Homo sapiens: one gene and its partner. The protein of the gene in region 1 interacts with the protein of each later gene in a pairwise test. Each region holds a gene or a part of one and is shown on either strand. Other genes may lie near its edges.

Region 1 (3,952 bases):
TGTGCTAAGGAATCTTGGAGAGAAGCTCATCTAACTCTCTTAATGTACAAATTTAGGAACTGAGACCTCATTTCATTCAAGTGACTTGCTCCATGCTACACGGCTAGTCATTACAGAGCCAGAGGCCAGAGCATGAACCAAGATACCCTGGACTCTGTAACTCACTCATTTCTACTGCAACGTCTTGTTACCACCTAGATGAGGTGAGTACATGTTCCTCGCAGGGACACAGAATTACAGTTTATTGAATGTGTCCTGTGTGCCAGGCACCATGTAACCATGAGCCTATGAAGTTCACACTATTATTATCCTCATTTTACAATGAGAAAACTGACATAGAGAGTTAAACTATCTTGTCAAGGTGCCAAAATAAATAACTGGTGAATCTAGGACTCAAACCCAGCAGGGTCTGACTTCATAGTCTCAGCTCACGATCACCATATGACACCATCTGCACCAGGGAAGGGAAGGCATGCAGACCTGACTCTAATGCCAGCTAGGACGTGAGATGGTGCTACCATCTCAAGTGAAGAAAGAGGCAAGAACCAGACTTACTTTGCTCACACTTGAGTCCACTGAAGCCAGGGTCACACTTGCAAGTGTAATTATTGATGGTCTCTACACATTCACCGTGGCCACTGCAGGATGTATTGGTACAGGCAGCTACGGAAAATACAAAGCATGATGAGGAGGACTATTACTGTGCTTATACTGAGTGCCTTTGATTTTAGAATCAACAGTGTGCAACAGAGACATCAGCAGTCCTACAGAGTGCCATAGACTTTAACTGAAGTGTTTTACAAAGTTCCAAATCTGAGTTTCAGGCCCACCTATCCTAAACCTTGATGCTAATGTATAGCTGTGGCTGGCACCTACCGTAGAAAATTTACTTCTTCACAAACTCTGAAGACAGTTCCCCTACCACAAATAAACAAGTAATTAAAATATGTATTGTGTGTGTGCATTTTTATATGTAAAGAACTACATATTTGCCTACAGTATTTATATATATTTTATATATATACATACACACATATATGTGTGTATATGTGTGTATGTATATATATAAAATGTATATAAATGCTGTAGGCTATATATATATACACACACACATATATGTGTGTGTGTATATATGTGTGTGTGTGTATATATATACATATCCACATATTCTTGCCCACATTCACACAAAACAGCAAAAGAGAGAAACTTTAGCAGTTAAACAGAATCTTTTGGAACATAAAATGACCACAATAGAGAGCAGTTTTTGCATGCTGTAAATTTGCCAAGATGCCCACACACTGAAACTACCTCCCACTGCTGCCGCAAACTCCCTACCTGTGTAGCATAGGGCAAGCTTCTTCTTGCTGCACCTCTCATCATTCCACATGCCCACATCTTTTTCTCTCTTGATGTAGATCTCCACGCAGTCCTCATCTTTTTGCCTATTGTTGGGTTCACCTGGAGCCCAGTTCTTGGCTTCTTCTGTCAGAGGTTTCTGGGTTCCTACCCAGACCCACACATTGTTGACTTTTCTGATTCCAATCCAGTAATAACTTGGTGAATAGCTCAATATGGAGTTTAGGTACTCAATCTCTTCTTTGTTTTGAATTGCAACCAGGTGTGTGTACCTTTGCTGACAATAAGCACTGGCCTCATCATAAGTCATAGCTTCCGTGGAGGTGTTGTAAGACCAGGCTCCACTCTCTTTAATGAGAAGCACTAGTGGGAGAAAAAGAAAAGAAATGGTAGAGTTTGGTACTGTTGTGGTTTAACTCTGACAACTGTGCTTTTTATTGTCTTATTTTTGGCAATGTTTGTGACATGGCCCAGACTTTTCTCATCTTTTCAAAAGTAAGAAGTACGTATGAAGAAACAGCGACTTATTGTTTATCTCTTTTGTGACTGCCACCCACTAGGTACCTTATCCACACTCACTCACAACATTATAGTATACCCATTTTGTAGTAGAATAATAATCAGAATAACTAAGCTTTATTGAGCACTTAGTATGCACCAAGAAGCACTGTATGAGGTACTTTCCATGAACCATGCTATTGAATCCTCACAATGCATCTGGGAAATAGGTCATTATGATCCACACTTTACACTTAAGGAAAGGGAGACACCAAGAGGTAAAGTAAATGACCCCAAGCCCAGGGAAGAACACATTGCAGGTAGAGGTCAAGGATGCTGCCAGATATCCTGTGCAGGACAGCCCCAGACAAGCAAGGATATTTCAGTCTGAAATATCTATAGTGCGAGAATGAGAAATCTTGGTCTAATGGCACTGACTTACCCAAAGTGAGAGCTGAGAGAAACTGTGAAGCAATCATGACTTCAAGAGTTCTTTTCACCCAAAGGTTTAGGCTTGAAATACTTTCCTGGGGAGATAAAACACAAAATGAATTAAAGAAGGAAATCGTGGGTAGCTAGTTACATTATTCTACCATGATGTTTAAGGCAGCATCCTAAGATTTTGGGCAAAGGACACTAGTGCAATAATCTTTATTTCAGAGTTTAATCAAATAAATAAACAAATTTTAAGACTTTCATTATTTAGGTCAAAGAGAAAAGACAGGTTTTAGCTACAATACAATAAGAGCTTGTACAGATGTGGTTTTTATTAGAAGGCCTTTTGCATATCTGTGTTTCATGGCCCGAGGCTGCCCTTATAAAGCGTTCTGCACTTACCGTTTTGGGAAGCAGTTGTTCAAACACAGGATCTCTCAGGTGGGTATCACTGCTGCCTCTGTCTCAGGTCAGTATAGGAGTTTTGATGTGAAGTCAGCCAAGAACAGCTGAACACTACTTCGGCTGAGGCCCTTTTATAGGAGGGATTGCTTCCTGTGAATAATAGGAGGATATTGTCCACATCCAGTAAAGAGGAAATCCCCAATGGCATCCAAAAACTTTCCCGGGAATATCCACGATGCTTAAAATTACAATGATGTCAGAAACTCTGTCTCTTGAAGCTACTTCACCTTTGTCCATGCCTTTATATCGTATATGCAATTTTATTAATATGACAAAAATGCATGATTTTTAATTATAATAACATAAAGTCTATGTCTTTAAAAAGTTGTAAAACTTTGCTTGTTAGTAGTGTCTCTCATGTAGTTGTGGTAGTAATTAGAATTTCAGAAACAGAAGGAAACCAAGAATAGGTTTGTCATCCATAGTCTACTACCTTCAATTTCTCATTCATAGCTGTGGATAACCAATCACTACTCATTTTTTCTTCCTTTTTCACCTGCCAATTCAACATATTTAACATGCACTGTCTCACAGAGGAATGACTCACAAGGTAGATATTAATCTTCAGATTTTGCACGGCAGTTATGCCTAAATTAAAATATTATCTAAAAATAATATCTAACACTCAAATGGTTAAAATAATGCCTTATTTTAAAAAAAGAAAAATGGGAAATAGATATTTACATCTGGGAAAGTTTCATGGTTTGTTCAGTGAAAAAAATAAAAAGGAGGCCAGGCACAGTGGCTCACGCCTGTAATCCCACCACTTTGGGAGGCCGAGGCAGGCGGATCACCTGAGGCCGGGAGTTCAAGACCAGCCTGACCAACATGGAGAAACGCCATCTCTACTAAAAATACAAAATTAGCTGGGCATGGTGGCGCATGCCTGTAATCCCAGCTACTCGGGAGGCTGAGGCAGGAGAATCGCTTGAACCCGGGAAGTGGAGGTTGCAGTGAGCCAAGATCACGCCAGTGCACTCCAGCCTGGGAAACGAGTGAAACTCTGTCTTAAAAAAAAAAAAAAAAAAAGAAAAGAAAAGAAAAAAAATAAAACGGAAAACTATATATATATATTTAATTGGTCAAAATTTTGTTTAAAATTTTTGAAATGTTAATGTGCAAAGAATAAAAATTCTTCCACAATGTTAACAGTGACTAACTCTGGATGGCAGGATTTGGGATAATTTTTATATCCTTC
Region 2 (3,500 bases), on another chromosome or scaffold:
CCAGCACTCAAATTGTGATCTCCAAATACCATTACTAAAAGATGGCTAGGCAAGGTGACTCACGCCTGTAATCCCAGCACTTTGGGAGGCTGAGGCAGGTGGATCACTCGAGGCCAGGAATTCGAGACCAACCTGGCCAATATGGTGAAACCCTGTCTCTACTAAAAATACAAAAAAAAAAAAAAAAAATTTAGCCGGGGCCAGGCGCAGTGGCTCATGCCTGTAATCCCAGCACTTTAGGGGGCCGAGGTGGGCGGCTCACCTGAGGTCAGGAGTTGGAGACCAGCCTAACAAACATGGAGAAACCCCTTCCATCTCTACTAAAATACAAAATTAGCCAGGCATGGTGGCACATGCCTGTAAATCCAGCTACTCGGGAGGCTGAGGCAAGAAAATCGCTTGAACCCAGGAGGCAGAAGTTACGGTGAGCCGAGATCACGCCATTGCACTCCAGCCGGAGCAACAAGAGGGAAACTCCATCTCAAAAAAAAAAAAAAAAAATTAGCCGGTCATGGTGGTGCACGCCTGTAATCCCAGCTACTCGGGAGGTTGAGGCAGGAGAATCGCTTGAACCCAGGAGGCAGAGTTCAAGAAAAGGAGAAGGCACACTAGAGACAATCCTAAGGAAAAAATAAAAATGGGGAGGCAGCTGGAGTTTCATGGAATTAAGAGAGGATTTTTATTTTTAATCAATGGAAATAAAAAGCTTATTTTACTGCTTATAGGAATATTACAAAAAAAGGGGGGGGGAACTGATTATATAAGAGAGTGGAGAGATGAAAGCAGGAACATCTTGAGTAGGTGAGAAGAGCTGGGATCCAGCCCACAAGTGAGGGACTGGTTTTGGTTAGAGGTAGGGGACCATTCATCTATTTAAATAGGCTCAAAGCACAGGTGAAGATATAAGCAAATTGATAAATTTGCTGGTAGAAAGAACATAATTTTAATTGCTTCTATGTTCTCAGCAGAATGTAACGGAAAGCCACAAGGAAGGTGTGTAAGGGAGAGGAAAGTGCTTAAAGGTTTAAAGACATAAGCTGTGAAATTAGTCACCTTGGAGGGTGGCACATTATTTTTTATAAACTTCTTGGAGAGTGGTACATAATTTTTTATAAACACCTTGGAGGGTGGTACATCACTAAGAAAACATAGTAGAAATATCAGACAGCACTAAAGGCTCATCTGAATTTTGTGATTATAATAAATTTAAAGTAAAACCTTAGCTAGGTGTGGTAGCACAAGCCTGTAGTCCCAGCTACTCAACAGGCTAAGGCAAGAGAATCACTTGAGCCCAGGAGTTTGGAGCTGCAATGAGCTGTGATTATGCTGCTGCACTCCAGCCTGGGCTTCAGAAATAGGCCTAGTCACTTTGATAGATGGATGGGTGAATGGATGGATAGATCATTTAAGAAAAAAGTAAAACCAATCATCATGTTTTATGTTATTTTTTAGCCACGTCCAGCTACTCTGGTACAGGAATGGACAAGGCCAAGATGTGGTTTAACCAGGGTTGAGATTTTTGTCATTCAAGTATGATGGAGGGAGAGAGGGGAAACACGTTGAAGAATGCAATGGAGTGATTATGATGACGGATTACAGAAAATAAGCAGTAGAAGAAAGGAAGAATGCGTATAAAGGAAATGCTTGGGCCCCACAGTAGGGTTTAAAGAATGGCTGGAATAAAAAAACAGACAAAACATGGTTTAAAGATAGGAGGTGGTAGTTAAAGAGTAATATGCTTGCAATTGAGATTTGACAGTGGTTATGATTACTGGTAATAGCTAAGCAAGAGTAAGTGATTTTGAAACTAAGAGGCAGGTACTGGATTGATTGACGATACAGAAATAATTAAGAATGATAAAAGTAGTTGAAGTAGAGAAAAAGACAACGAGTCAGATCCTAAAATCACTGATGAAAAGAGACTTGTGGATGAGTGCAAAAGGACAAGGGATAGTTTAATCTAGGGGCATGTATTTCTTTTTTTTTTCTTTTCTTTTTTTTTTTGAGACGGAGTCTCGCTCTGTCGCCCAGGCTGGAGGGCAGTGGCGCGATCTCAGCTCACTGCAAGCTCCGCCTCCTGGGTTCACGCCATTCTCCTGCCTCAGCCTCCCGAGTAGCTCGGACTACAGGCGTCCGCCACCACACCCCGGCTAATTTTTTGTTATTTTTAGTAGAGACAGGATTTCACCGTGTTAGCCAGGATGGTCTCGATCTCCTGACATCGTGATCCGCCTGCCTCAGCCTCCCAAAGTGCTGGGATTACAGGCGTGAGCCACCGTGCCCAGCCGTTAGGGGCATGTATTTCAAAGAAACTGGAGTTTATAAGGAAGAACAGTGGCCTAGAAGAGGCAAAGAAGAAAAACATCTATCCCTCCTCTCAGCCGTGTGATATGTGATGTATAAAAGAAAAAGCCATTACTTAGAAGGGCTGCAAAGAAAGCAGCATCCTCAGAAGAGGAAGGGCCAGGTGTCAGTGAGAACTCTAACTGAACAGCGTCACCCAAATCACAGCCTATCACCACGTCAAAACTAAAGATTGTTTCACTGCCACTGCCAGAAAAACAGTTTTATCACACTGTCATCTAATGTGCCTGGTTATTTAACTACTTCGAAAGGTAACATTACAAAATGTTCAGCCGTTACTTACCTTCCTGTTGTAATTGAGCCAAGAAAAGTGCAAGATATGTATCTGATATTAATTCTGGACCCGTCAAGAGAGAATTCAAGTTAAACCACTGGAAAAAAATTGTCAATATTTAAGTTAGTGTATATTATAGGTAATAAGGAAGTTTCACATGTTAAGAATAGATACAACCCATCAAAGCTTAGTAAGATTGTTTAAACTCTGGAAATATTTCAAGTTGAGCTCTTTTCTTTGACTGAATAATATGATCTTAAAAACTACAAGAGAATACTGCAGATTTATCACTATTAAATACTTTTTTTTTTTTTTGAGAAGAGTCTCACTCTGTAACCCAGGCTGGAGTGCAGTGGCATGATCTCGGATCACTGCAACCTCTGCCTCCCAGGTTCAAGTGATTCTCCTGCCTCAGCCTCCCAAGTAGCTGGGACTACAGGTCTGCACCACCACACCCAGCTAATTTTTGTATTTTTAGTTAGAGACAGCACATTTGCCACATTGGCCAGGCTGGTCTCAAACTCCTGACCTCAAATGATCCGCCCGCCTCAGCCTCCCAAAGTTCTGGGATTACAAACATGAGCCACTGCACCTGGCCTCTGCTAAATACTCTTTTTTTTTTTTTTTTTTTTTTTTTAGACAGAGTATTGCTCTGTCGCCCAGGCTGGAGTGCAGTGGCGCGATCTCGGCTCACTGCAAGCTCCGCCTCCCGGGTTCATGCCATCCTCCTGCCTCAGCCTCCCGAGTAGCTGGGACTACAGGCGCACGCCGCCACACCCAGCTATTTTTTTGTATTTTTAGTAGAGACAGGGTTTCACCATGTTAGCCAGGATGGTCTTGATCTCTTGACCTTGTGATCCGC

Evidence for each region.
Region 2: the proteins of SELE (region 1) and ATXN3 interact in binary tests that used the Homo sapiens proteins (3 or more experiments, as listed by UniProt).

Annotation. Positions count from the first base shown.
Region 1 is NC_000001.11:169,731,280-169,735,231, forward strand, and holds the start of SELE (E-selectin precursor), read right to left. Parts: upstream 2,801-3,952; 5' UTR 2,692-2,800; intron 2,382-2,691; 5' UTR 2,334-2,381; coding exon 2,297-2,333; intron 1,720-2,296; coding exon 1,336-1,719; intron 664-1,335; coding exon 556-663; intron 1-555. UniProt on the Homo sapiens protein: Cell-surface glycoprotein having a role in immunoadhesion. Mediates in the adhesion of blood neutrophils in cytokine-activated endothelium through interaction with SELPLG/PSGL1. May have a role in capillary morphogenesis.
Region 2 is NC_000014.9:92,086,083-92,089,582, forward strand, and holds part of ATXN3 (ataxin-3 reference isoform), read right to left. Parts: intron 2,736-3,500; coding exon 2,648-2,735; intron 1-2,647. UniProt on the Homo sapiens protein: Deubiquitinating enzyme involved in protein homeostasis maintenance, transcription, cytoskeleton regulation, myogenesis and degradation of misfolded chaperone substrates.